4 linked regions of the Homo sapiens genome follow. The protein of the gene in region 3 purifies or fractionates together with the protein of the main gene of each other region. This does not show direct contact. Each region holds a gene or a part of one and is shown on either strand. Other genes may lie near its edges. The genes, in order: CDYL, E2F6, MIER2 and AGAP3.

The links.
Region 1: the proteins of MIER2 (region 3) and CDYL purify together in Homo sapiens (affinity purification with mass spectrometry; 4 studies listed by BioGRID and IntAct, with this or other methods). This does not show direct contact.
Region 2: the proteins of MIER2 (region 3) and E2F6 purify together in Homo sapiens (affinity purification with mass spectrometry; 3 studies listed by BioGRID and IntAct, with this or other methods). This does not show direct contact.
Region 4: the proteins of MIER2 (region 3) and AGAP3 purify together in Homo sapiens (affinity purification with mass spectrometry; 3 studies listed by BioGRID and IntAct, with this or other methods). This does not show direct contact.

The regions. Positions count from the first base shown.
Region 1 is NC_000006.12:4,947,395-4,954,419, reverse strand, and holds part of CDYL (chromodomain Y-like protein), read right to left. Parts: intron 2,155-7,025; coding exon 2,011-2,154; intron 523-2,010; coding exon 364-522; 3' UTR 1-363.
Region 2 is NC_000002.12:11,456,157-11,463,181, reverse strand, and holds part of E2F6 (transcription factor E2F6), read left to right. Parts: intron 1-4,829; exon of another isoform or gene 4,830-4,889; coding exon of another isoform or gene 4,890-4,901; intron 4,902-5,948; coding exon 5,949-6,003; intron 6,004-7,025. UniProt on the Homo sapiens protein: Inhibitor of E2F-dependent transcription. Binds DNA cooperatively with DP proteins through the E2 recognition site, 5'-TTTC[CG]CGC-3'. Has a preference for the 5'-TTTCCCGC-3' E2F recognition site.
Region 3 is NC_000019.10:320,779-327,803, reverse strand, and holds part of MIER2 (mesoderm induction early response protein 2), read left to right. Parts: intron 1-547; coding exon 548-671; intron 672-1,205; coding exon 1,206-1,297; intron 1,298-2,099; coding exon 2,100-2,169; intron 2,170-7,025. UniProt on the Homo sapiens protein: Transcriptional repressor.
Region 4 is NC_000007.14:151,089,456-151,096,480, reverse strand, and holds part of AGAP3 (arf-GAP with GTPase, ANK repeat and PH domain-containing protein 3), read right to left. Parts: exon of another isoform or gene 6,316-7,025; intron 1-6,315. UniProt on the Homo sapiens protein: GTPase-activating protein for the ADP ribosylation factor family. GTPase which may be involved in the degradation of expanded polyglutamine proteins through the ubiquitin-proteasome pathway.

The sequences.
Region 1 (7,025 bases), on a different chromosome or scaffold from region 3:
AGACTTTTCTGTCATCCAAAACCAATAAAACACAATTCTGTTTTTTATACAGTACTAGCCAAAGAAAACAAAAATTAGAGCTTCTAAGAGCAGTCTAGTGCTCACCTTTATACTTTTACACCTGCGTGTATATAAGTATAAAATAATGACGTTTGGACAAAGAAGCTTTGTAGTTATTTATTTTAAAGTTACAGTACTTTAAAACTCCTCGATAATAAATAGCGTGGATGTTCCCAGTCCTGCTTCCAAGCGTAAGCTACGGGTGAGCTTGTTTCAGGCTGTGAGAATGGATCAGGGGAACTGGAGCCGGTGATGTTCTCCTGCTCAGCCCGATCCCGGTGTCACCAGTGGGCAGCCCGACACTCAGAACTCATCGATCTTCCTCTGCAAGTACTTTAACATGGAGTCCATCCCCTGGGCCGAGCCCCAGATTTTCTTCAGCACCTCACACTCCCTCTCGTTGGCCTGCTCCAGCTCCATCTTCATGTTGCAGCGCACGAGGGCTTTGGATTCCTCAAGCACCTGCACCGGAAAACAAGCAGCCAGTTAGCAGGGTGCATGCGGGCAGACACGGGTCCCCTGTGCCTCCACATTTACGGAGGCAATCATCAAATTCCAGCAATCACCTGTTAAAAAGGTTACCAGACATTTTCTCACAATATGTCGGGCCTAACATATGTATAAAGCACATTTCACACTTGGCACTGGGTGCATTCTTAACTTCAAAACGGCTTATTTCAAAGGAGAGCTGGGCTGTCGGCACCCAGCCTGTGAGCAGCCTCGGCCCCGCGCCACTGCCGCATACTGGCGTGGACCCCCGAACTGGACGTCTGCTCTGCTGATGCCCAGAAAGCTCTGGGGATGCCTGTTGAGGGAATTTTTCTAAACAAAATGTAATTTTCATAATGAGGGTTGCTTGTCTGCCTGGGATGGGAGTCGTGTCAGTTAATATTATACATTTCACATCCTATAATTTGCCAAATGCAATTTTGTTACAAGCATATTTTAAAAAAAAATTATTTGTGGTTTTTTTTTTGACACAGGGTCTTGCTTTGTTGCCCAGGCTGGACAGCAGTGGCGGGATCTCCGCTCACTGCAATCTCCGCCTCCCGGGTTCAAGCGATTCTCTCACCTCAGCCTCTCGAGTAGTTGGGATTACAGGCGTGCACCACCAAGCCTGGCTAACTTTTGGATTTTTAGTACAGACGGGGTTTTGCCATGTTGGCCAGGCTGGTCTCCAACTCCTGACCTCAAGTGATCTGCCCTCCTCGGCCTCCCAAAGTGCTGGGATTATAGGCGTGAGCCACTGTGCCCGGCCTATTTAGCACATTTATTAAACAAAAACTTAGGAGGCCGGGCACAGTGGCTCATGCCTGTAATTCCAGCACTTTGGGAGGCTGAGGTGGGTGGATCAACTTGAGGTCAGGAGTTCGAGACCAGCCTGGCCAACGTGGTGAGACTCCGTGTCTACTGAAAATACAAAAATAACCCAGGCATGGTGGCGCATGCCTGTAGTCCCAGCTACTCGGGAGGCTGAAGCACAAGCATCACTTGAACCCGGGAGGTTGAGGTTGCAGTGAGCCAAGATTCCACCACTGCACTCAAGCCTGAGCGACAGAGTGAGACTCCATCTCACAAACAACAACAACCCAAAAACAACTTAGGCCCACTGTGGGGAAACAGGGGAGAAGCTAATAATGTGACTGAAAGGCTTTGGAACCAGTAAAGAATTATATCCATGTTAGTTGTTGTTGACTTTCATAGGACATTTGCTAACTTGCTGACATTTCAGACTGAAGTCCATTTCTGTGGTTCCTGGGTATTTGCAAAGGGAAGGCAAGGCGTGCGTGGGGGCAGTGGCGGCAATAGGTTCTGGCAGGACTTCACGGGAAGGTGCTCTGTTGAGGACAAACGTAAAGGACTTAGGAATAATTGCAAATTTGTGAGCTCTCTGAGGGAAAAGTTTCTATTTTTTAAAAAGTAACGTGTAACAGAAGCAATTAGACATACAACTGGATTGCACGAGGCAAGCTCCTTAATGCGAACCATCACTTCCTGAGTGAACGTCCCGGGCCAAAACACCTGGGAGACCAGGCCCTTGCCACACGCCTCCTGCGCTGTCAGCTTCCGTCCACTGAGCAGCATCTCGTTTGCCTGCAAGGAAGAAGAGTGGATGTAATATGAATTGCGGTGGGAGGCGGGCGGGGAAGACCCATCCCTTAAAATCCACACCGAAGGGAAACATTCACAAATACCAGCCCCGCAGGGAAATGGGGCACATCCTCTAGGGGCCGCTGGGAACAGACCCTGTGCAAGGTGCAGTCCATTGGGCAGGTGGGAAAGTAATCTATCGGGCTGATGATTTTTTTCTTAAAAAGGAAAGCAAAAAGTGTCTTATTTTACAACCTACTACAGAATTACAGGGACTCAATAAAGAAATCTAAAATAGAAAAGGTCTTTTTGCCATTCGTTTAAAAAGTTACTGGTATAGCTTCCTCTCCTCTCATCTGCCTTCCTCCCCCTAATGCCGGCCCTTCCCACGTGTGAGCTCTTTTAATACACAAAACAATCCTGGGAAAATCAGCATATGCAAAGTTAGGCAATTTATAATTTTAAGGATTTGAACCAGGCACAGAATTCCTACCAAACCTTTTCTTTATCTGGGAGGCCAATGGTGACTTGTTTTTAATATACAGAAAAAATATTCTAATGGCAGCGACCGTTTCTGCTAGAGCGTACCTTGGAGGCTGCCTTGTATCGCTTGGATACGAAAAGACAGAACTATCCAGGGCTTGAATGTGGCGAAAAATGACCGTAATCTGCTTGAGGGGCTGGCTACAGTCACCTCACACGGCTCAGTGGAGAAAGCTAACATTAGGTTTTCTTTAAAAGAATATATATGTGTATATATGAAATTAATTTTAACCTTGTCCTGGATTCTAGATCACTTTATTTTTTAATACATGACACTGAACTAGATCACTTTTAAGGTCTCAGTACAACATGTATGGATTTTACATCATTCAAATGACAGGCTCACAGATGCCGAGATAAGGCGGGAAGGGGTGCACACATGTCTGATAAAGAAACTCCACACTGGCCTGAGGGGACAATTTTTGGTCTGTCGTTTATCTTGCCCGGTTAACCTTCCTAACAACTCTGATGTCACAAAGCCTTGACTATGAGCTCCTGGGGCTCTGGTAAAACACAATTTCGGTAGGTGGCTTCCACTTCCAAAAGAGGCAAAATCACAAAAGACAGTTTTGGCCCTGAAGTCGCTGAGACAGTGTAAGACTGCCCATACACCTTCTGTCAATGTCTTGATGCCGTTTACTGCATGTGAAACCCGCAGCTTGGAGAGCACACAGGCAGAGGCGGCAAAGCAAACACGTGGCTGACTCACTGCCCCTCCCATGCAGGCAGAGGCTGGAAAACAGGGCTGGGGACAGGCTCCTCATGAGGGTTTGCAAGTTTTTTTTTTTTTTTTTGAGACGGAGTCTCCTTCTGTCGCCCAGGCTGGAGTGCAGTGGTGCAATATCGGCTCACTGCAAGCTCCGCCTCCCAGGCTCACACCATTCTCCTGCCTCAGCCTCGTGAGTAGCTGGGACTACAGGCGCCCGCCACCACGCCCGGCTAATTTTTTTTTGTATTTTTTGGTAGAGACGGGGTTTCACTGTGTTAGCCAGGATGGTCTCGATCTCCTGACCTCGTGATCCGCCCGCCTGGGCCTCCCAAAGTGCTGGGATTACCAACTTGGAGAAAGTCATGAGTTTTTGAAGAGTCTGGAGAAGTTCTAGAAACCCCTGAACTGACGAGCTTCTTCTCAGTGAAAAGACGGTCCATAAACAGTGGATTTAGAAACGCGACCCGACCTTACTGTGAGTGGTTCTGATAGTCCTTGTCACGGCAGATCCAAACGCAGCAGGAAAGGGAGTGGGACTCCCGGTGTGCTGCTGCCGCACGAAGTGCTCTGTGCTGTCGGGGTTTTCCTTTCATAGACTGTGCTTCTTTCATTCTCAGCATAGAGTGAGGACACTACAGCCACATCCCTGAAGTTGAGCATGAAGTATGTTCTCAGGACCAGCTTAGTGGAGCCTTAGCTTGGGCAGCGGAGGCAAGCGACCCCGCCAGGCCTGGTGTCTGCGGTTCAATCACAAAGGGCAGGTGTCCGCAGGCTTCCTCTCCCGCCCTTCCTGCAGGGCCCTGGCTGTCTGTCCCAGTCAATTCTTCCAACTTTATTTTCTGCCACCTGGAGGTCAACTTACAGCCCCACCACTGTTCTCTTCCCTGTCTCCCTTTCGTCCCCCCTTTGTTGACTCTCTTGGGCCTGATACCAGCCGAGAACGGCCCTTCTCTCTGCTCAGCACTCACTCATTGCGGCCGGTCTTCCTCCACAGCCCCGCCGGCTCCAGGCCTGCTCATCCCTGGAGATCCTTTCCCTACCTTCGGTGTTCTCCATTCCAGGTGGTTGGATGTGCAGGACAAGCAAGGGCATTTCTCAATTTACTCAAGAGCAAAAATGACAGGGCTCACGCTAGGTTGTTAAAGCTTTTTCACTTAAACACGGCCAGTGAGTTGGTTTGAACGACAGTCACCCAAGAAAACAACAACAACAAATCTCCCTTGGTAAGATATGTATTATAGGATTAAATACACGCAATTTGCGTGAGCATATTCTTATATAAACACACTATTTTCAGTAGTTTCAAAATGAGAGGTTTCAAACTTCTACCCAAATAACCGATTCACACAGATGCAGGCGGTGGGAACCTGACCAGCTAGCACGTTGCTCTGAGATGGCTGAGTGCACAGGGACTCCCTGTAGACAACCTACATCACCCCATGATGTGGTCAAAGTTGTCCAACTATTAAAAGAAAGTTATCCTGGAACCATCCAGAGAGATGGGAAATGCCGAGGAAAGTTAAATAGAGATGTCTTTTTAGTTTGGCCAGAGTACAGCAGGACGGGTGGCGAGGAAACTGGCCCAGTATGAGCAGAGGGGATCCAGGAATCTTCAGCCTTATGGGGACTGCTGTGGCAGAGGTTTTACCACCTGCTCCCTCAGGCCAGTCTCTGAAGTCCCCAAGAGAGGGCTCTCAAGGTGTGAGCGTGGGGTAAGGCCCTCAGGTACTCGCTGGGCATTCTCCAGCTTCACACCCCAGCAGGCCCCTGAGAGGTGCAAGATTTCCACGTGGGAGCCTGTGGGCGTCAGACCGTGCCATCCTCCATGCACTCCATGAATGTCTACTGGGCACCAGGAAGGCTAAACTGGAAGAGACTCCTTGGCTGATTTACGTAGCCCTCGCCTACAGCGGAGGGCCTGCTGTAAGAAAGGAGAGGCCACACAGCCTGCACTATTTGCATATTCTTTTTATCTTGATAATGTGATTCCTTTAGCTTATCCTCCTGGCAGAGCTCTGCACATGCAAAGTGGGGAAAACCACACTTGTCCAGTCTTGCCTCAGGCTGCTGAAAGCTCAAGTACACCAAAGGCTCATGAAAGGAACGACATCATTTACATCATCTGCATAGTCACTTTCAACAAGAGTTGTCGAAGTCATCTGAACAACGTTTATTCACTTTCTGTAGAGAGGCTTCGTCAGATACTCTGCTCAGAAAGTGTAGAATTCACGCCGAGTGAAATGCAGGCTCTTCGCTCTTGAGTTAGAGCAGGGTTTCTCCCCCTGGACACTAGGGACATTCTGGGCTGGACTGTTGTTTGGTGTGGGGGCTGTCCTGTGGGGGCTACATGCAGGGTGCTAAGCAGGGCTGTCCCGTGGGCTATGGAGGGTGCCGAGCAGTACCCCAGCCTCTGCTAACGGCCATCTCCTCATGTGTGACAACCAAGTTGTCTCCAGACATTGTTCCCCAGGGGTGAGGTCGGGGGTGAAAACTGCCCAGTTGAAAGCAGCAGCTCAAGAGGCACCAGTACATCTCCAGGGGAAGCGTAAAGTAAAGATCTGCCAAGGCTTGTAGAGTAGGGAGAAACACGGCTGACCAGAGGGCAGGCATTCGTCCTGTGATGACTTCAAGCCTCATGGCCCTTTCTGGGAATGGTGAACTCTGACACCTCTACCCCTGAGCAGCATTCAGCTCCAGGGCTCCACTTCCAAAATGTCTTTGGCCAAAATGTGTCTGAACATCAAGGTGGTTTAGTATTTGCCCCACATCTGCACCGACACCACACATCTACATAGATCATACAGTGGGAGGGGTCAGAACCTCAGATCTCAACCTCCTTTGGATAAATAACTCAAAATGAGATTCACGGGATGTTCCAGAGGATGAGGATTCTTTCCTGCCGGGACAGGGTTAACTGGCAGGACACAGTCTCGTTTACAGTAATCACTACGATGAACTGATTTTACTGATAATGACTCTACCATGGGAGTCTGGTGGTGTCAGGTGCGTGCAGTACGGTGTAAAGGACAAAGCAAATGACTTGGATAAGCCACCCACGTCCCCACCCCAGCAAACTGCCTGCTGTGGGAAGTGCTGTCAGCAGGCAACAGAGAGCTCAGGGCCTCCCCCATGGACCGCTCTTCCCAGGGCCGCCAACCCCACGGCCAACTGCAGTGGGGCACCGGGAACCGCCGTGAGGCCACGTGGTTCCAGAGCTCCCTGTCAGTCAGCTCTGCCCAATCCTGCTTCCTTTCTGCCCTTCCATGGACGCTGGCACCTAATCTACCAGACCCTGCTTCCCAAATCTATCTTAGCTTCCAGAGAAACCACCTTGTGACGAGGGGAGTGGACAGACCGAGGGTGAAGAGAGAGGTTTAGAAACTGCACGGCTCCCCAGCTGGCAATGAGGGACCACCCCCCAACAGGCCAGGTGGAGAAGCCACAGTACCTGGCACAGGCAGCCGTCCACGTGCTAACACTCTCACAGGTGAGGGGCAGGGACATGGGTGCAAGCAGAGGGGCAGCCGGGAGCAAGAGGCAGAGAGGGCTGAGACTTGGCCTTAGCCCCTGGACTTGTCAGCAAGAGTGGACAAGCTCCACCCAGGTTAATCAGCCACTGGAG
Region 2 (7,025 bases), on a different chromosome or scaffold from region 3:
CTGTGTTGTTTGAGGGTCAGCTGTATATTGGTACCATCTGTATTGGTGGTCTTAATATTTGAGAACGTGATAAAAACTCTAAGCTCACTGTGGAAAAACCACTTAGTTTGCATGTAGTATCAGCAGATACATCCCTTGAAATCTTAGACATACAGTTCTGGTATTTTCAGTTACCATGTCATAATTCCCAAATCTATAAATCTCCTTCAGGGTTTTCCAGCTGTCTACTAGACCTTCCTACTTAGGTTTCAAACTCCTATTAGTCCCCTCTCATCTGAGGTTTCACTTTTCTTTATTTCAGTTAACCTGTGGTCCCCCAAACTATTAAAATGAAAATTCCAGAAATAATTCATTAGTTTTAAACTGCTTGCCATTCTCAGTAGTGTCATGAAATCTTGAGCTGTCCAGTACCACCCAGCACCTGAATCTTCCTTTGTCCAGAGTTCCCATGCTGTCACTGCGCCCTGCCCTTAGTCGCTTAGTAGCTGTTTCTTGATTCTCAGACCAACTGTCACGGTGCTTGTGTTAAGTAGCCCTTATTTTCTCAGTAATGGCCCCAAAGCACAAAAGTAGTGCTTCCAGTATGCTTCCAGTAGTGCTTCCAGTATGCTGAAGAGAATTGATGAAGTGCTTCCTTTAAGTGAAAAGATCTAAGTTCTTGACTTAGTAAGGAAAGAAAAAAAATCTTATTCTGAGGTCGCTAAGATCTACAGTATAAGATATTTTGAGAGAGAGACCACATTCACATAACTTTCATTGTAGTTTATTGCTATAATTGTTGTATTTTATTATTAGCTGTTAATCTCTTACTATGCCCGATCTATAAATTAAATGTTATCACATGTATGTATGTATACGAAAAAATAGTATATATAGAGATTGGTACTGTTTGCGGTTTTAGGCATCCACTGGGGGTCTTGGAATGTAGCTCCCAGGGATAAGGGTGGACTACTCTATATCCAGAATTGAATTTATTACTCTATTGGTCAGGGCTCTCCAGAGAGACAGACCAATACTAACACAGATTTTGGTACCAGGAATGGTTCTGGGAAACAGAATATTAAAGATGAGTTTCCTTAATTGGGGTTTTTGGAATTGATTCTTTAATCTGATTAGAATCTAAAAATGCCAAGAGCTCTACTTCTAATAGTAGAGAGAGCACTGGAAGTCCATGACACAAACTGTTTATAGATATGCAAAATAAATGCCTTTTTATTCTAATTCACTGCTTATAAGAGGCAAAGAATTTAGTGACGCTATATGTGATATTTTCAAATATTTTTGGGAAAACAAGGATTATAATGACATTGGTTGGTTGCTCCTATTGTCTTTGGACAAAGTGATGAAAGAAAAGGATGAGCTCAGGGATTCAGTTTCATGGCTGGAGTTCCACATAAATGACCTAAAAGTTTCTAAGTGTGCCCTGGGTTAGAATCTTCTATCCTGTAGCCATGGGGCTGAAATTGCTGAAAATCAAACACAAGCCTTCATCATGTAACTGGCCAAATTACAATGGAAGTTGAACTCTTGGCCAGTCATGGTGGCTCATGCCTGTAATCCCAGCACTTCGGGAGGCTGAGGCGGGTGGATCACCTGAGGTCCGGATTTCGAGACCAGCCTGGCTAATGTGGTGAAACCCCGTTTCTACTAAAAATACAAAAAATTAGCCAGGCTTGGTGACGTGCGCCTGTAATCCCAGCTACTCGGGAGGCTGAGGCAGAAGAATCACTTGAACCCAGGAGGTGGAGGTTGCAGTGAGCCGAGATTGTGCCACTGCACTCCAGCTTGGGCAACAAGAGTGAAACTCCATCACAAAAATAAATAAATAAATAAAATAGAAAGTTGAACTCTCTTAGCCTCACAGAGCATCTACTGTTAAAGTGAGGGTATTGGTTGGGAAAGAGTGGGGTCCTGCAAGTTTGGATGGGATCATGTGGGAAGATGAGGCTGGACACATTGAGCCCCTAAATTCTGATGAGTCTTGTTTGCCAGAGGGGCAGTAGCATTTCCACCTACAGTGGTATCATCCTTTCCACCCCTGTCTAAGGGGATTAATTCTGCATTGCCTGTGGAGATAGTAATGGCCTCCTCTGAAACAGTTCCCGGACAAGACAGTGCTGATTCTCATCAGGACCCACCCCGCCACCCCTCTTTGCTTCTAGACCTATTACTAGACCCAAGTCCCAGCAGACCCCTAAAGGTGAGGTGCAAAGTATGACTCACTCCACTTCTGGTACCAAATCTGTATTAGGTTTCTGGTCCTGTAAGATTATAGTGGAGCTGAAAAATTTCTATCACCTGGTGACATTGTAGCCATCATAATGGTCATAGCACCAAACATTACCTTTTCTATGTTTAGATGCACAAATACCATTCTGTTAGTTACCGTTATCTACAGTATTCAGTCAGTCACATGCTCTACAGGTTTGTGGCCTAGCAGCAATAGGCTATACTGTATAGCCTAGGTGTGTAGTGGGCTGTACCATCTAGGTTTGTTTAAGCACTCTATGATGTTCACGCAACAAAATCGCCTAATGACGATTCTGAGAAGATGCATGATTGCATGTAGATATATGAGAGGGAATTTATTAGGGAAATTGGCTCATGATTTTGGAGGCTGAGAAGCCCCACAATAGGCTGGCTGCAAGCTGGAGACCTTGGGATGCTGGTAGCATGGCTCAGTCCAAGTCCATAGCATGAGAACCTGGGAGGCTGCTAGTGTAACTCCTAGAGTCCAAAGGCCAGAGAATCTGAAGTTGTTGTCCAAGGACAAACGGGAAAGAGGGTCCCAGAGGATCTGGACTTCTGAGAAGGGAGAAAATAGCATTGATTGGAGGTAGAACTTGGTCTGCATAATTGAAAAATAAGGAAAATTTGAATGGGTGAGAATGCAATAACCTTTCCAAAGACCTCTTGAAGGAATATTGCTCCCCAAAACAGAATTGGTGTAGAGAAACATCTGTATAGAGAAAGGTTTAACCAGCTTGGAGGCAGTGCTTAGCATTTTAGTCCCTAAACTTCATCTTTTATTTTTTTTTCCACCTTTGAAGCAGCTCTTCAAAGCTACACAATAAAGTATAGGTCTTTAAATAGGGGACTTGGAGCAGTGGTGAAATAGCTTGGAATTTGAAAAAATATGCTGACTTGCCCCAGAAGATGCTGGTTCCTAGAGAGCTGTATACTCTGTCAGGGCACAAGATCAGCCTGAGTGATTTTCATTTTGTAAGCCTCTGACTTCTCCATTCATTTTGCAGCTAGCATGCAAACAATCTGCCTATTTATCATCTTTTTTTTTTTTGAGACGGAGTCTCGCACCGTCATCTGGGCTGGAGTGCAATGGCACGATCTCAGCTCACTGCAACCCCTGCCTCCCGGGTTCAAGCGATTCTCCTGCCTCAGCCTCCCAAGTAGCTTTTATTACAGGTGCCCACCACCACCCCCAGCTAATTTTTTGTATTTTTAGTAGAGACGGGGATTTCACTATGTTGGCCAGGCTGGTCTTGAACTCCTGACCTTGTGATCTCCTCCCCCCACCCCGCCTCCCAAAGTCCTGGGATTACAGGCATGAGCCACCGCGCCTGGACTTATGTTTCTATCTATATGTCTGTATATGATGTCTGCCACTGAGGGGCAATGGTACTGTTGTGATTCCTCCAAGATAGAGTGTTTTTGTATTTGAAGAGGAAAAAAAAACAAATGAATGCTCTTGGAGACTGTTTTCCCACATACATCAGTATAGCCAATATGTAATGGAACTGCATTGATAGCAAAGAGTGGGGAAAACAAAGCCATCTTTTTTCATATTATGCCTAACTGAGGTGTTATTTCTGTACCAACCTGTGATCCACTGTCTAGATGAGATGGGTAGGGAGGTGTGTAGCAGAGAAGACACCCTAGAATGCATAGCTAGCGAGGCAGCCTCTTTGGGAGCCAGTAAGTAGAGTGTGTAAGTCCTGGGCCTGCTACTCTGAATTAAGAACGGGAACCTCTGCAGCAAGGCCCCTCTGAGCTTATATATAAGGATTTAGGATGTTTGTTTATGTGTGTTTCAAATCAATGTGATAAGGATGGATTTTTTTTTTTTCCATTCAAGAATCTTGCTACCGTAGCTGGCCCGTCTCATACTATTAGCAGAGGGGTTAAATGTAAAAATAGCAATGGCAGTTGGTCACACTTGTCTAATGTCTGACTTTGATAGGACTGCTTCAGAGTTTCACTGTTGGATACCATGTTTGCAAGTCACCATTGTCAGCACTGTTTGAGAGAGCTGGCCAGACCTAGTCCCTACCCCCAAGGCCAGCATTCCCAGCTCCAGTGTTGCATGCCCTAGCAGGTCTACGTGTTCAATTCTAACAACTAAATTAATTTTACAGTGGGATTCTGTCTCAATGGGAGTATTCCATATTGGGGTGATTTGTTAATAGATGCTATCATCTTGTCATAGATGATAAGGAAATCATTGTGCCGAGGATATTGTTAACACCAGTATAAACAAAGAGCTTCTTAACTGCTCACCTTGCCTTCAGGCTTCCTCATTTCCCAGTCCTTTTGCCATATTGCTGCCATACTTATATTTCTAAACCATTTACTTAATTATGTCCTAGTCTGGTTCAGAAACCTTTGGTGATTCTCTACTGGTTATGACATAAAGTCCAAACTCTTTAGCATTAGTTTTATGTGGTGCCAGCATGCCCTCCCAGCTTCAAAGTCAAGTCACTTACACACTGGCCACTTCAGTGGGTTCCCAGAAACATGCCATGCCATATACATCTTCACACCTTTGTTCATTTCCGGTACCACAATCCTGTCTTTTTTCTTCTCTCCCCACAGTTGTTTATTCAGGCAAATCTGGCTTGCTGGGCTAGGCTCAGCTGAGGGCTGCCTTCGCCATGAATCCTTCTGTGAGTTCCCTGTCTGGGTGTATCCCTAGTACTGCTGTTGATTCTCTTCTTAGAGTACCTATGAATTCACTTGCCCCAGTTTTGCTTTATGGCCAGTTTTTTCTTAGATAAGAGCTAAACCTGATGACAGCCTGTCTGGAGGCACATTAACATTGATGTTACTAGGAGTTTCTGTTCATAGGCTTTCATTTTAAGGTTTGGTTTCATTTTATTTATTTTTTACAGAAAAACAGTTTCTAAATGTTACTACCAGTTTTATGCAAACTTTCAGAGCCTCTAAATAGCTGGTAAAATGGTGAGCATTGATAATGGAGCTTCTACTAATTTCCTGGTTGTTTCAGGAATTTAAAAGAAACTTTTTATCTAACGCAAAAGTTTCTAGTTACCCACAGCATGCATTGTTTTCCATTGTTAGAAATGCTGCTGTTTTTACATTAATTATAATGGGAATGCATAGCTGCCTATGAAAGCTTGTGAGCAAATTTTGGGGAACCACGTGTACTTAATAATAGCAAGGAGTGAGCATGTGTTGGTTGAGATAGATCTTCTATCTCTACTAAGCTTTCCCAAGTCAGGGACAGTGTTGTAATGATCGTACCTGATGTATTCAGTATATTTTGTGTGTGTGTGCATGTTTTTTTGTTTTGTTTTGTTTTTTGAGACGGAGTCTTGCTGTGTTGCCCAGGCTGGAGTGCAGTGGCATGATCTTGGCTCACTGCAACCTCCACCTCCTAGATTCAAGCGATTCTCTTGCCACAGCCTCCCAAGTAGCTGGGACTACAGGTGCCTGCCACCACGCCCGGCTAATTTTTGTATTTTTAGTCGAGATGGGGTTTCACCATGTTGGCCAGGCTGGTCTCGAACTCCTCACCTCAGTGATGCACCTGCCTCGGCCTCCCAAAGTGCTGGGATTACAGGCGTGAGCCTCTGCCCAGCCAGTAATTATCATATTCATATTCCCAGACCTTTATACTATTGAGTAAAATGCTATTTGTTTGCATTGTTGTTTTAAAATCACTAAGTTAAATTTTTTATCTTTTTTTTCAGCCATCAAAAATAAGGATTAATTTAGAAGATAATGTACAATATGTGTCCATGAGAAGTAAGTTGATTCCTGAATAGGTTTTAGGTTTTGTTAGTTTGAACTTCTTATGATTAAAATGATTTGTTTAAGTGTATGAGTTGATGAGAAACTGAAATACAATTTGTTATGTGTACACTGAAATGTAAAGTTGCAAGTTTTAGTAACAACTCCTGAGGTTATGGGTTGAATCATGTGCACAAATGCCAGTTTATTCTCCATAGAACAGTCTGTATTTAAGGCTATTTTCTCAGAATTCCTCCTGGGAGAGAAATGTACTCTTTCCTTCTTGTCCCTTATCTTAGGTTAATGTTTAGGGTATCTGTTAGAGGCGATAGGATGTAAATGGCTCTAGTTCCCTCTTCTGGAAGTTTCCATGATAGACCGCCCCACCTCAGCTTCCTAATCTCAGTGGATACATAGTGCATCGATAAGTCAGTGTGAATCTTAGAAATACTCACCCTTAGTTTTGCCTCAGTGCCTGCCCCAGTCTCACCCATAGTTGGTCACTGAGTTTGGTCAGCTTCACCTTTGATGTGTTTCTTGCATCTGTCCCATACCACCAATTTATAATAATATCTAACATTTATTGAGCTCATACAGTGCCTGGCACTGCATTAAGCTCTCTGCATGGATTGTCACAATGACCTTTCAAAATATAGGTATGGATTAGAATTCTTACTTTATAAAGGCCCAGAGAGGCTGAGGTGAGTTGCTCAGAGTCAGGGTTGAATCTCTTACCTCTCTGACGCAAGAGCCCAGAGTCTTTACCACAACGTTGAATTGCTTCTTCTCGTTCAGGGTCTAACTTCCTCTGTAGCTGAAGTTGCTGGGTCTCCTTCTTAGAAGGCAGTCAGCTTCCAGGCTTTCCAACCTGGATGCTGGAAAAATCCAGGGGGATTTGTCTAATACAGAAATTGGATTATGATATCATTCAACCTAAGTTCTTCAGTGACGCTCTTTTACATGTAGAGAAAACCCTGATTCCTTGTATATTTGATTTTAAGTGTTTGCATTAAATTCATAAGCCACTTCATATTAAA
Region 3 (7,025 bases):
CTCTCTGCAGAGGGGAGTGTTCAGTGAGAGGAGGCACAAAGGCCCCCAGAATAAGTAGAATGTACCTGTGACCACTACCCTGGGGTTGGAATGGCCATGGGCATGGGGCTGGACCCTAGCCTTAACCCCAGGCCACATGTCATTCTGGCTTTGGTGGGTGGAGGGGCACATCGGGGCCTCCCCAGGACTGGTCTCTCTGCCATTCCGTACCCAGAGGTCACAGGTCAAGGCTTGGGTGTTGGGAGCAGGGGCGGGCTGCATTGTAGAAGGTTAAAACCAAATGCACAGTCAGAGAAAGAGCCATGCACTCCGGGCGTGTGCCCAGTGGCAGCTCTAACTGTCTCCAGCTCTGGTGGCTGGGTGTGGGCTCCCACGTGTCTCCTTCCCATCCCCGCTCCCCCCACGCTGTGCACCCTTTGCAGAATGGGAATAGCAGCCCCATGTGAGCCTCAGGGCACTCCCAGTGTCTTTACTGTTGTTATCATTAGTGGTATTGCGAGATTGTTAAACTGTAAAATGTTCTTTACTTTTTTTTTTTTTTTTAAAGGAACAAATAGCGAAGGATTTGCTTTCAGGGGAAGAAGAGGAAGAGACGCAATCATCTGCTGACGACCTCACCCCGTCCGTGACCTCCCACGAGGCCTCCGACCTCTTCCCTAACCGGAGTGGATGTAGGTGACTCTGTCCCCATACTCCACCGCAGCCAGGCCCCCTGCCAGGCAGTCGTGATGCTTGATGAAGGGTCCTTGGGCTGATGCAGGCCAAGAACTCATCACAGATGAGGGCGTCTGCCTGGCGGGAAGCGTCAGTAGCCCTGGGGGTGCTTTGTTCTCCTCCACGCTGGCCAGTGAGCCTGGACTCTCAGAGCGATTTGGTTTAAACAAGTAGGGAACATGTTGGTTCCCCTAGCAGATCCAGGGACAGCATTCCCAGAACCGGCCTCCTTCACAAGCCTCTGTGCTGGCTTTCCTGGGAACTGAGGGCTCGGGGCCCAGAGGTGCAGCAGCTGCATAGAAGGGAAGGCCTCTTTCTTCAAAGGTGCATCCCTGGTCCTGGGTCCTGTGCCCATCTGTTTACCCAATGTCTGGCCAGAGAGAGGGTTATGGCCTGGGGATCAGGTGGATGGAGAATGGGAGTGGAGAGAAGGGGTTGTATAGGCTGCAGGCAGTGGAGACCCTGGGGGACCTGCCTCTGTTTTCCCAAAGCTCGTTTCCTGGCTGATGAAGACAGAGAGCCTGGCTCTTCTGCCTCCTCCGACACCGAGGAGGACTCTCTTCCTGCCAACAAATGTAAGAAGGTACGTGGTTCTGCCATCTCCCCAACCTGGCATCCCGGCCGTGGTTCTGCCGTCTCCCCAACCTGGCATCCCGACCGTGGCTCTGCCGTCTCCCCAGCCTGGCATCCCGGCCGTGGCTCTGCCGTGTCCCCAACCTGGCATCCCGGCCGTGGCTCTGCCGTGTCCCCAACCTGGCATCCCGGCCGTGGCTCTGCCGTGTCCCCAACCTGGCATCCGGACTGTGGTTCTGCCGTCTCCCCAAACTGGCATCCCAACCGTGGCTCTGCTGTGTCCCCAACCTGGCATCCCGACCGTGGCTCTGCTGTGTCTCCAACCTGGCATCCCAGCCGTGGTTCTGCCGTGTCCCCAACCTGGCATCCCTCCCATGGCTCTGCCCTCTCCCCAACCTGGTATCTCGGCCTCAGTAACCGCAGCCGGGTCCTGCTGAGCCCTCTCCCTGGGTTTGTGCCCCTTCTCAGAGGAGGGACGTGCTGCTCGACCCCAGGGTGGGCTGGGACCGGCCACAGGTGCTTTGGACCGGAGCCTGGGCCCCTGCTGCTGACCCAGAGTGTTTGTCCTCCGACATCCTGTCTGGGCCTCTGCCAGGCCAGGCGTCAGGACACAGCCTCACCCCTCACACACCCAGGCCTCTGCCTCCCACCTTCAGACCCCAGAACTGGGCATCAGCAGGTAGACGGCACAGATGGGTCTGGGGTCTGGACAGTGGCCCCTCCCCGTAAGCCTGCCACAGCACGCTGCAGCCAGCCTCCCGCCCGGCCTAGATGCTCCTCAGTGTCCTGATTCCCAGGTGCTTGCTTTGCAGGAGATCATGGTGGGACCTCAGTTCCAAGCTGACCTCAGCAACCTGCACTTGAACCGGCACTGTGAGAAGAGTAAGTAGGGCCTGGGGAGAGGAGGCGAAACCCACTTCTGCAAGGGGAGTGGCCTGGCTGGACGTCAGATCCTTGGACAGTCTGGTCAGGTCCCCGCCCCGCATCGCTCACTGGGGCAGCTGAGCCTGTGGCTGGAGGAGGTGGGAGGCTCTCGTGGCTGCAGTGGGCCTATTGCTGCCTGCCCCTGCCCAGCTCTGTCCCTCCCTTGGGGTCTGCTCTGGTCAGCCTGTGCAGCCAGACCCTCAGCAGCCCGTCCTGCCTCTGACCCAGCCCTGCCCTGCCCTTGACTCCAGCCGCCTCCCCACAGCCTGGGCCGCTGCATTCGATGGCTCTGTGCCGGGTTAGATGGTTCTCCAGAGACCCGCCGGATGCTGCGCTGCACCCCCGGCCTTGCTCCGCTCCTCTTCAGGGTGCTCCCTTTCCTGGGCTTGACCTTCGTCTCTTTCCCACTAGAGTTCAAAATCGACCCTCTCTTGCCCCTTTGAGGCGTGGAGTCACGTGCCCATTGACTTGGGTCTCATTTGTGTTGCCCTGGAGCCCTTGCAGGCCCTGGGCCAGTGCTCCTAGCTCAGGAGCCTTCTCCAAGGTGATTCAGTGGCTGAGATGCGTGGTGGGAAGGGACAGGTGCAGCAGAAGTACTGAGTCCAGGGAGACAGGGACCCTCCGTGAAGAGAAGTCGTCCTCCTGGGGCTGGTCGGGGGTGCCCCGTGTGAGAAGAGGACGGAGCCAGGAAGGTGCAGCCAAGCTGCTGGGACATCCAGAAGGCAGGGTCGGAGGGGACACTTGGGACCCTCACCCAGAAACCCTGGCTTTGGAGTCTGTCATCAGGGCCCTTTCCCCACCCTGACTCACCCCCCATGAGGGTGCCCTGTCTGGAGCAGCCAGGACTTCTTCGTCCCATGGGATGCCAGCTGGCCCCTCCCACTCGGTATGACACCTGTGTCATTCGAGTCGTCTGCGTGGTTGTGTGTGTCCTGTGTATTGCATTGTGATGACGTCTGTGTCATTCGAGTCGTCTGCGTGGTTGTGTGTGTCTTGTGTATTGCATTGTGATGACGTCTGTGTCATTCGAGTCGTCTGTGTGGTTGTGTGTGTCTTTATTGCATTGTGATGACGTCTGTGTCCTTCGAGTCATCTGCGTGGTTGTGTGTGTCTTGTGTATTGCATTGTGATGACGTCTGTGTCATTCGAGTCGTCTGCGTGGTTGTGTGTGTCTTTATTGCATTGTGATGACGCCTGTGTCATTCGAGTCGTCTGTGTGGTTGTGTGTGTCCTGTGTATTGCATTGTGATGACGTCTGTGTCATTCGAGTTGTCTGCGTGGTTGTGTGTGTCTTGTGTATTGCATTGTGATGACACCTGTGTCATTCGAGTTGTCTGCGTGGTTGTGTGTGTCTTGTGTATTGCATTGTGATGACGTCTGTGTCATTCGAGTCGTCTGCGTGGTTGTGTGTGTCCTGTGTATTGCATTGTGATGACGCCTGTGTCATTCGAGTCGTCTGTGTGGTTGTGTCTTTATTGCATTGTGATGACGCCTATGTCCTTTGAGTCGTCTGCGTGGTTGTGTGTGTCTTGTGTATTGCATTGTGATGACGCCTGTGTCCTTCGAGTCGTCTGCGTGGTTGTGTGTGTCCTGTGTGTTGCATGGTGATGACGTCTGTGTCATTCGAGTCGTCTGTGTGGTTGTGTGTGTCTTTATTGCATTGTGATGACGCCTATGTCCTTCGAGTCGTCTGTGTGGTTGTGTGTGTCTTGTGTATTGCATTGTGATGACGCCTGTGTCATTCGAGTTGTCTGTGTGGTTTTGTGTGTCTTGTGTATTGCATTGTGATGACGTCTGTGTCATTCGAGTTGTCTGTGGTTGTGTGTGTCCTGTGTATTGCATTGTGATGACGTCTGTGTCGTTTGAGTTGTCTGTGTGGTTGCGTGTGTCTTGTGTATTGCATTGTGGTCCTTGGTTTGGATGCTGTGGTTTTTGAGTCTTGTGTGTTCCATTGTGGTCCTTGGTTTGGATGCCATGGTTGTGTGTGTCTTGTGTATTGCATGGTGATGATGTCTGTCATTTGAGTCATCTGCATGGTTGTGTGTGTATTGCATTGTGATGACGTCTGTGTCATTTGAGTCGTCTGTGTGGTTGTATCCTGTGTATTGCATTGTGATGATGCCTGTGTCATTCGAGTCGTCTGCATGGTTGTGTGTGTGTGTCCTGTGTATTGCATTGTGATGATGTCTGTTCTTTGAGTCATCTGTGTGGTTGTGTGTGTCTTTACTGCATTGTGATGATGTCTGTGTCATTCGAGTCGTCTGCGTGGTTGTATGTGTCTTGTGTATTGCGTTGTGGTCCTTGGTTTGGATGCCGTGGTTGTGTGTGTCTTGTGTATTGCATTATGATGACGACTGTATCATTCGAGTTGTCTGCGTGGTTGTGTGTGTCTTGTATATTGCATTGTGATGACGTCTGTGTCATTTGAGTCATCTGTGTGGTTGTGTCCTGTGTATTGCATTGTGATGACGCCTGTGTCATTCGAGTCGTCTGCGTGGTTGTGTGTGTCGTGTGTATTGCATTGTGATGACGTCTGTCATTTGAGTTGTCTGTGTGGTTGTGTGTGTCTTGTGTATTGCGTTGTGGTCCTTGGTTTGGATGCCATGGTTTTTGAGTCTCTTGTGTGTTCCATTGTGGTCCTTGGTTTGGATGCCGTGGTTGTGTGTGTCTTGTGTGTTGCATCGTGGTCCTTGGTTTGGATGCCACATTTACCCACCCTTTCTGCCATGGGCTGCGGTCATGGTTGGTTCAGCTGTGGGCTGTGAATGCCCTCGTGTGCGTCGTTAGTGGACATAGGCACTCGGCACTTGATGGACAGCGGGGAGTCGTGTGGGAGGTGTGTGCTTAGGGTGACGCATACTGCTTGAGTTTCTCACTAATGATTTGTGGGAGTTGCTCCACATTCTCGGTGTTTGCCACTGAGGGTGAATTTGCCTGAATTTTAGCCCGTCTGGTGGATATGGACTCCTGTCCCATTGTGGTTTTAATTGGCATTTCCCTGGTGAGCACCTTTCGCAGGTGTACTGGCCATTTGGATATTCTCTCTTTGCGTGCTCCAAGCTTTCTCCCATTTTGTTGTCTTTCCCTTTCTGATTTGTAGTCATTCACATTTTGTGGAAACAAGTCTTTCTGGGCTTTGTGCACTGCTGCTGTTTTCTCCAGTTTGTGGTTTGCCCATTGACTCTCTTAGTGATGTCTTTAATTTTAATAAAGTCCAACTTATCAATCATTATTTGAATAATAATGTGTGTGTGTGTTCTACTTAAGGAGTGTTTGCTTACCTCAGGCTCTTGGAGATATTCTTCCACGTTTCTTTCTAGAAGATTTATTGTTTTTCCTTTCACATTTAAGGCTGTGATCCAACTTAGTTTACATTTTGGTGTATGGTGGCTGGGCGTGGTGGCTCACACCTGTAATCCCAGCACTTTGGGAGGCCGAGGTGGGAGGATAACTTGAGGTCGGGAGATTGAGACCATCCTGGCTAACACGGTGAAACCCCGTCTCTACTAAAAATACAAAAATGAGCCAGGTGTGGTGGCGGGCACCTGTAGTCCCAGCTACTTGGGAGGCTGAGGCAGGAGAATGGCGTGAACCCGGGAGGCGGAGCTTGCAGTGAGCCGAGATCGCGCCACTGCACTCCAGCCTGGGTGACAGAGCGAGACTCTGTCTCAAAAATAAAAAATAAAAATAAAAATAAAAATAAAAACAACAAAAGTCCATTGTCTCCCCCACTGAGCTGCAGTGACGCCTTTGTGGTAAATCAGGTGCCTGTAAGGTGTGTCTTGTCTCACCCGGAGTCATCGCCACTGTCTCAGTTATTACAGGTTACAAGGAAGTCTGAGGTGGTGCAAGTCTTCTAACTTTGTAAGTTTTCATTGCATATCTATGTAAGTTTTAAGATTAAAACTTATTTTTTTCAGCAACTGACAAGTTTTAATCTTTTTTTTTTGAGATGGAGTCTTGCTCTGTTGCCCAGGCTGGAGTGCAGTGGCATAATCTCAGCTCACCACAACCTCCGCCTCCTGGATTCAAGCAGTTCTCCCACTCAGCCTCCCAAGTAACTGGGAGTACAGGCACCCGCCACCACGCCTGGCTCATTTTTGTATTTTTAGCGGAGATGGGGTTTCACCATGTTGGCCAAGCTGATCTCGAACTCCCAACCTCAGGTGATCCGCCTGCCTTGGCCTCCCAAAGTGCCGGGATTACAGGTGTGAGCCCCTGCGCCCGGCCCATAAATTGATTTTCAAACGTTAAGTTAACGGTGCACGGTGGAATAAACGTGCTTCCTGGCCATGAAGTGTTCTCTCTTGTGTGTATGTATCTCATGCACTCAGTCCTCATTATTTGTGGGTTCTGTGCTGGTGAATTGCCTACTTGGTAAAATTTATTTGAAACCGCAAATCAAAACTCGCAACACCTTTACGGTCAGGCGCCAGCAGATGTGTGTAGAGTGTCAGTGAAGGCGAGTTACCTGACGTACAGTTCCAGCTGAGGTGGGACAAGCTGCTGCTCTGTCTTGGCTCTCAGATCTTTTACTGTGAGCACGTGCCTTTCCTGCCGTGTACTGAATGCCGTTTTTCACATCCTTGTGCCTTGTGTCGGCTACTTGACGGATTAAAGTGGCCCCTAAATGTAGTGCCGACGTTCTGTCTGGTGTTCTTAGGTGGAAGAAGGCTATGATGTCCCTTTCAGAGAAAATTCGAGAAGCTCCACTCAGGCGCAAGCTCTGGGGCTGCTGGCCGTGAGTTCAGTGTTAGTGAATCCACAAGGCAGATCCAGTGAGACAGTGGCTCCCAACCTTTTTTGGCACCAGG
Region 4 (7,025 bases), on a different chromosome or scaffold from region 3:
AAAGAAAAGAAAATTTAAGTTCACACGTGTGACTCGCCCATGTCTACTGCACAGTGCTGAATCAGAGAAAAAAACAACAGGCAAAACATCAAAGATGACCCTGGGTGTTCACGGGAACGTGCAGGCCCTGTGACAGCCCTGCCCCCTCAGGTCCCTTCCCCTGGGCCTGGATGAGCTAAACCAACGTACCCCACACTCTGCCACCTGGGCTCTCAGGCTCGGGTCCGGAAATGGTCATTCCTGTGATCTCATGCAGCCCTCACCTCACGCATCCCCACGCAGGCGGTGATGACAGCTGAGCCTCTGAGACAAGTAATGAGACAGTCGCCACCCAGCACGCACATCCTCAGGGCAGCTGCTGCTCTAAAAGCTCTGCAGACGTTAACTGATTTGCTTCTCACGCCCACACCATGAAACGGATGCCCATGTTTTACCAATGGCGAAGCTAAGACACAGAGGGGTTAAGGAACTCACCCGAGGTCACACAGCTCCCAAGTGGTAGGTCTGGGACTCAAATCTAGGCAGCCTGGCTCCAGAGCCCAGGTGCTTAACCTCTATTCTATTCAGGCCCTGAGAGAAGAAATGAAGGCCAGGCTTCATTCCACATCACCCAATATAGAACCATCCAGAACAATCTAGAAGTAATAATGGGGTGGCAGGGGGGCAGGGGGTGCTGCCTCAGAGTGATGGAAAGCCTCCAAAACGTCCCAACTCTTCTCAAACAAAGGCTCTGGGGCTTGCCTTTCTGGTATCTTTTTTTTTTTTTTTTTTTTTTTTTTGTACAACTGTGATTGGACAAGACATTTAGAGCATCTTTAACCAAAACCTCCTCCAGGCACAGAAGTGCCATCCACCAGTGCCTGGAAAAACCCAGGCCCAGGAAGGGGTGGGGATCCCAGCAGAAGCAGAGCAGAGATCCCTGGAGGGGTCTAGACTTTTCGGTCCTCCCTCTGCCCCTGTGACAGGCTTTGATCCCACTCCAGGCGCTGGGGTTTCAGGTTTGCAAGCCATCAAAACACCAAACTGAAAAGGCTAAAGGGAAGCTGCTGTAGGCAGGCACCCCTACGGCGGTAAGGAGGGGTTCTGGCAGAAAAGGAACAGGCACAAAGCCCTAAGGTACAGCCATCTGGGGCTACGGTATGGAGCGGGCACAGCCAGCCTCAGCCTCCTGGGTGGCCCAGAGGATGGCACTGTCTGCTCAGCTCAGGGCACATTGAGGCCGAAGTGCTGACTATGGGAACTCAGACAGTGCCTGACTTGCAGCAAACAGAGAAATGTACGTTGTAGAAAAACCTACATTAAAAGAGATTAAAACGGTCTTCAGCTCAATAAGAAAAAGTAACATTGGGAGGTGGAGGCAGGAGCATCACTTGAGGCCAAGAGTTTGAGACCAGCCTGGGCAACACAGACCCTGACTCTACAAGACAATTTTAAAAATTATTAGCCAGATGTGGTGACACATGCCTGAGTCCCAGCTACTCAAGAGGCTGAGGTGGGAGGATTGCTTGAGCTTAGGAATTTGAAGTTGCAGTGAGCTACGATCGCGTCACTACACTCCAGTCTGGGTGACAGACCAATATTCTGAGGAAGGAAGGAAGGAAGGAAGGGAGGAAGGGAGGAAGGGAGGGACAGAGGGAAGGAGGGAAGGGAGGGAGGAAGGGAGGGGAGGCCAGGCATGGTGGCTCACACCTGAAATGCCAGCACTTTGGGAGGTGAGACGGGAAGATCACTCGAGGCCAGGAGTTTACAGCCAGCCTGGGCAACATAGTGAGACCCCATTTTTACAAAAAGAAAAAAGAAAAAGAGGAACAAACCAAAAGTAAAATGAATAAAGGATATGTACAGAATGAACAAAATGCAAATGACCTCTCAAAAATGTTTTAATATCAACTCTCACTAATAGTCAAAGTGAATCCAATAATGAAATAGCTAGTGATCAACTAGTAATCAAAGTCAAACAAAGTAAAACAACGAGAGTCATTTAGTCTTTTTTTTTTTTTTCTTACGTATCAGATGAAGAAGGGGTGCCGGGGAAGTGGGGCAGGGAACTCCAGGCTGTCTCTATGCCTGAAAATCAAATGGCCTTTCTGGAGGGCAGGGTGCCAGAGTGCCGCAAACGTCCTAAAAATGTGCCGACCCCAGAGTCTGACCATTTTCTTCTGAAAATTTGTCCAAAAGCAATAACGAGACAAGCGTACAAGGCGGCACGTAATAAACAGCATTCCCTTACACAGGATACCCTGCCGCCTTTCAGAATAATGCCTGATATTTCACCTGTGCTTATGACACGCTAGGCACTGTTCTAAGCACACCGCGTTGGGGGTCTCAATCCTCAGCACTACCAAGCGGCAGAGCTTTGTTATGACCCACCTCAGGTAAGGAAACAGAGGTACAGAAAATCTCACCTCTCCCCACAGGATCTCTTCTGATTCTCAGCTCCTGGAGGGCTCCAAGGGGGGCGCATCTCAAAGTGCTGCATGACAGAGGCAGCCTCAGAACAGATCTCAGGGACCCCAGCTCAGGTGCTCACTTGACAGACAAGACCCCCGGCCAGGGAGCCAAGCCTGGCCTGTTCCAGATACTCACGCCAGGGTCACCCCTAGCTGCATAGACAACCAGAATGTGACTCTCAGAAGACGCACCCAGAGCAGACTTGCCCCAGCTCTCACAGCCAGTTAGTGGCAGAGCAGGGACGGGAACCCAGGTATCCTGACTCCCAGCCTAGGAGCTGCCAAATACGCAAATGAACACGGGAGCCTCCTTTTGTGAATCTCCGGCTCCCCTTCTCCCAGCAAAGCATTTTCCACAACAATCCCACGTTTGCTGCGAAAGCCTAGTAACAGCAAATCCAGCAAAGAGTCGTTAATAGAAAAAAGACCAGAAGGATGCACATCCGACTGCTCACCACAGATCCTCCCAGGAGAGGGGAGGCCGGGCAGCCACCTTCCTACTTCTACATTTGAATGGCTTGTAACAAGCATGTATTTACTTTCATCCCTTAAACACATTAAAATGAAATTTAAATTAAATACATATTTGGGCACGGACGTGGTGGCTCATGCCTGTAATCCCAGCACCTTGGGAGGCCGAGGTGGAAAAATTGCTTGAGTCCAGGAGTTCAAGACCAGGCCAAACAACATAGCAAGACCCCATCTCTACAAAGAATGAAAAAATTAGCTGGGTGTGCTGGTGCATATTTGCAGTCTCTGCTACCTGGGAGACTGAGGTGGAAGATCGCTTGAGCCCAAGATTTTGAGGCTACAGTGAGCTAGGACTGCACCACTGCACTGCAGCCTGGACAACAGAGGGAGACCCTGTCTCCAAAAATATATATACACACACATATACATACATATAATACATACATACATATATATGTTTCTTGAGCAAGCATCTGTCTATTGTACGCTACATCCGTGCTACCCATGGGAGACAGACGCCTCAGAGAGCCACCATTCAATTCAGTTGGGGATTGAAGACGTCCAGAAGAAAATTATAGTGGGGAGCAGAAGAAAATTATAGTAGGGAGCAGGAGGCCTAATTCACCCTAAAATTATATTCTAAAGGCTTCCAAGAGTTAAACTCTGGTCCATTTGACTCCCATAAAGTTTCCTGTAGAAGCAGCTTTTAAGGGCTGATGTGGTGTGGCCAACAACACTTATTCAGCCCATACATGCAAGGCAAACCACAGAGACCTGGAGTTGGAGAACCAGAGAAAATCCCTGCTTCCTCCCCTCACTGCGTGGCTTCAGGAAAGTTACTTAATCTAGGTCCTAGGCTGTCTCACTTGTGAAATGGAAATACTTGCAAATCCAAAAAAGACCCTCCTCTGGGAAAATAAACTATGAGATGCAAAGTGTTGCAAAGCCTCATTCCAACCCCCAGCAGTGAGCCTGGCAGAGGGAAGAACATTCACGGGTGGAACATGCACCACCCAATCTCTGCGCCCTCAAAGCACGTGGCTGGGCTCACCCCCCTTCCCTACCTCAACTCTGCGCTCCAAAATAAGCTCCCTTACCACTTGGCCTGCAATGGTTTAAGTCAGCTAGGGGTCAGGAGGAAAGCATCAGATTAAACTAATTTCCAGTTACCTGCATATTAAAAAGAAACTAACACAACAGGTGGATGTTTAGGCAATGCCACACACGGACATGGGAGTTCTTACGGGGGTGTCTGTCTCCCCCCAGCCTTGGCTCTCCCAGGCTACACCTGCTTTCCAAGAAGCGTACCTCGTTCCCTCCACTTCTGGGCCAGGGACGCACTGACAGCTGGTAGGGGGCTCACAAGCACAAACGAGCGGTGTGGATGCTGGCGTGGCTCAAGCCTTCTCAAAGGCTTAAACGCTTGTGACGCCCATCTTTCGCAGAATGACGCACCAACTCCTGCGGTTTCTAGGAACACGGCAGGGTGGAAATAAATACTGGAGAAAGCATGAAATACTCCTTCACCAGGGTCCTGCCCACCTCACCCACCCATCTCCTACAACTCAACACCCGAGCTGCAGAGTCCAACTTGCCGTTCCGAGAGCCACACTATGTTCTCCTGCCTCCGTTATCTTCATCATCCTGTTTCCTCTATGTGGGAATCCTCCGGACCCCCAGGCCTGGCACACGTTTGAGGAAAGAAATAAATGATACAGGAAGATTGCCAGGTGGCATCATAGGGACAAGGACTGCTTCATCTGTGGGGTACCACTGCTGGGGAGAGCCAGAGCTGAGACCCTGGATGGAGCAGGGTACCAGGGGTTCCCACGAGGCCATGCAGCCTGAGATCAGGCTGGACAGGTCTTCCTGTTCTGGCTTCTGACCCGGAAGAAAGAAGTCGTGATGAGGTTTCCCAAGTCTCTGACCTTTGCCCTGCCCTGGTCTTCTGAAAATCTAGGTCTCCTTCTGGACTCCCAGTGCCTCTCTGGCACCTCCTACAGGCTGAGTCGTTCTCTCCAGGTGCACCAAGCCCAGACCTTCTGGCCCCTTCGCTCCCTGTCTCTCCTTTGATTGTCTGCTTTTCACTGTGCTAGATGCAACTGGGCCGCACAGTAGGAGCTAAATGAATGTATCTGGAACAAATGAAGCTTTCCCTGGCTACTAGCACCCACATGGTTATGCTCTTTTTCAGAATTGCTAGAACTCTTGCGAGCAAAGTCCTGCATAAGCAACCAGGCCCCCATGAGACACTCAGTCCCTAAACCAACGAATTGCCAGAGGGGCCTGGGCTGGCTCCAGATGCATGTCCCCGGCACCCATCCCAGACCCCCCCAGTCCTCATCTTTGAAGGGAACCTCAGCAGTGTGTGGTGCAGCAGGGCCCACGGCGGAATGCAGGGCCCGGCCAGGGAGTGCCCACCCAGGAACAGTAAGGAAAGCTCAAGAGAGCACCCTGGCACAAACATGGGGACCATCATGCCAGTCCTCCAGGATCAAGTCACAGGACGAACAGAAACAGACACAAACACTAAAACCCCAGGTGTGCCTAAGGGCTGAGGGCTGTGGGATGCCAGGGCGTATGCCGTTTTGTTTTGTTTTGTTTTTGTTTTTTTTTGAGACGGAGTCTTGCTCTGTTGCCCAGGCTGGAGTGCAGTGGTGCGATCTCAGCTCACTGCAAGCTCTGCCTCCCAGATTCACACCATTCTCCTGCCTCAGCCTCCCGAGTAGCTGGGACTACAGGTGCCCGCCACCACGCCCGGCTAATTTTTCGTATTTTTAGTAGAGACGGGGGTTTCACCATGTTAACCAGGATGGTCTCGATCTCCTGACCTCGTGATCCGCCCGCCTTGGTCTCCCAAAATGTTGGGATTACAGGCGTGAGCCACTGTACCCGGCCACATGCACCGTCTTACTCTCCCTCTGAGCTGCCACCCAACTGCAGTCACAGCTGTGGCCCCTTCTCTGTCTAGCTGAGGCTTGACCCAAACAAGAAACCCCCACATCTCTTTACCTTAGTCCCTTTAGGATGTCACCAAGCCCACAGCCCAGGGCAGGCAATCTGTGAACTGAATGAAAGTGAGTGGGGTAAGGGTGACAGTGAGAACGCTCTGCTGGCCAGGCCAGGCCGGCTGGAATGCTCGAAGTAACTGTTTAAAAAAAAAAAAAAAAAAAAAAAAAGCCCTAGTGGGAAAACGATGGAGAAACCTGAGTAAGTCACCCAGCTGACAAAGCCCAGCTCCGGCACACATAATAGTAGCCATATGGCACACACACCTAATAGTCAGGTCCACTTCCACTTCCAGGCGGGAGCCCCCCCCCCCCATCTGGGAACTGCCAGCAGGGATCCCAGGCCCTCCCCAAGCCCCTGCTCCTCCCCTGTGCCGGGCCCTCACCTGCACACAACGACTGGGACCAGCAGGTCCTGGAAAGATCCCGGGCTCCTTTGGGGCTCCTGGCTAGCTTGGTACAACATCCTGCGCTCCACGTGCCCAGTGTCCCCATTTGGACTGAGGCCCTCGTTCTCCTGCATCCCTCTTTCTAGGACTCAGCCAGGAAACCCAAGCTGTCAGGGAGCGCTCACTGCAGGTGAGTGCCAAGCCGGAAGCGGGCTCCTGTTGAAGGCCTATACTCTCCCTGGCTGTATCCGCTTGGCTCCCTCCCTTCTCTGAGCCTCAGTTTCCCCACTAGTGAGGTGAAGGTGGCTCAGAGGCTCTGCACATAGTGAGCCCTCCAGCTCTCCCTCCCAGCTGAAGGCTGTACTTCTTCCACTCCCTAAGGCCAAGTAATGGGCAGGTTTTCTCTTTCCTTGGCCTCTGGTGGGAAAGGAACTTTTCAAAATGGTCTCCCTCTCCTCAAATCCTGTCCTGAAACACAGGAAAGCCAAACATCCCCTGCTTCCTCCTGTCCTGGACACGGGGTCAGAAGTGACTGTGAGTGGCAGAGACTACAGGAGGCCCAAGTGCCCACTGCACTTCCTCAGAGCCAGATGGATCCTGACCGCAGGTCCCACGTCACCTTCAGAGCTGGGACAAACAAACCCTTCACCGAAGTCTAAACAGAGTGAGGGAGGCTTTGTTATACACTCGGAACTGCCGCCCCTTTC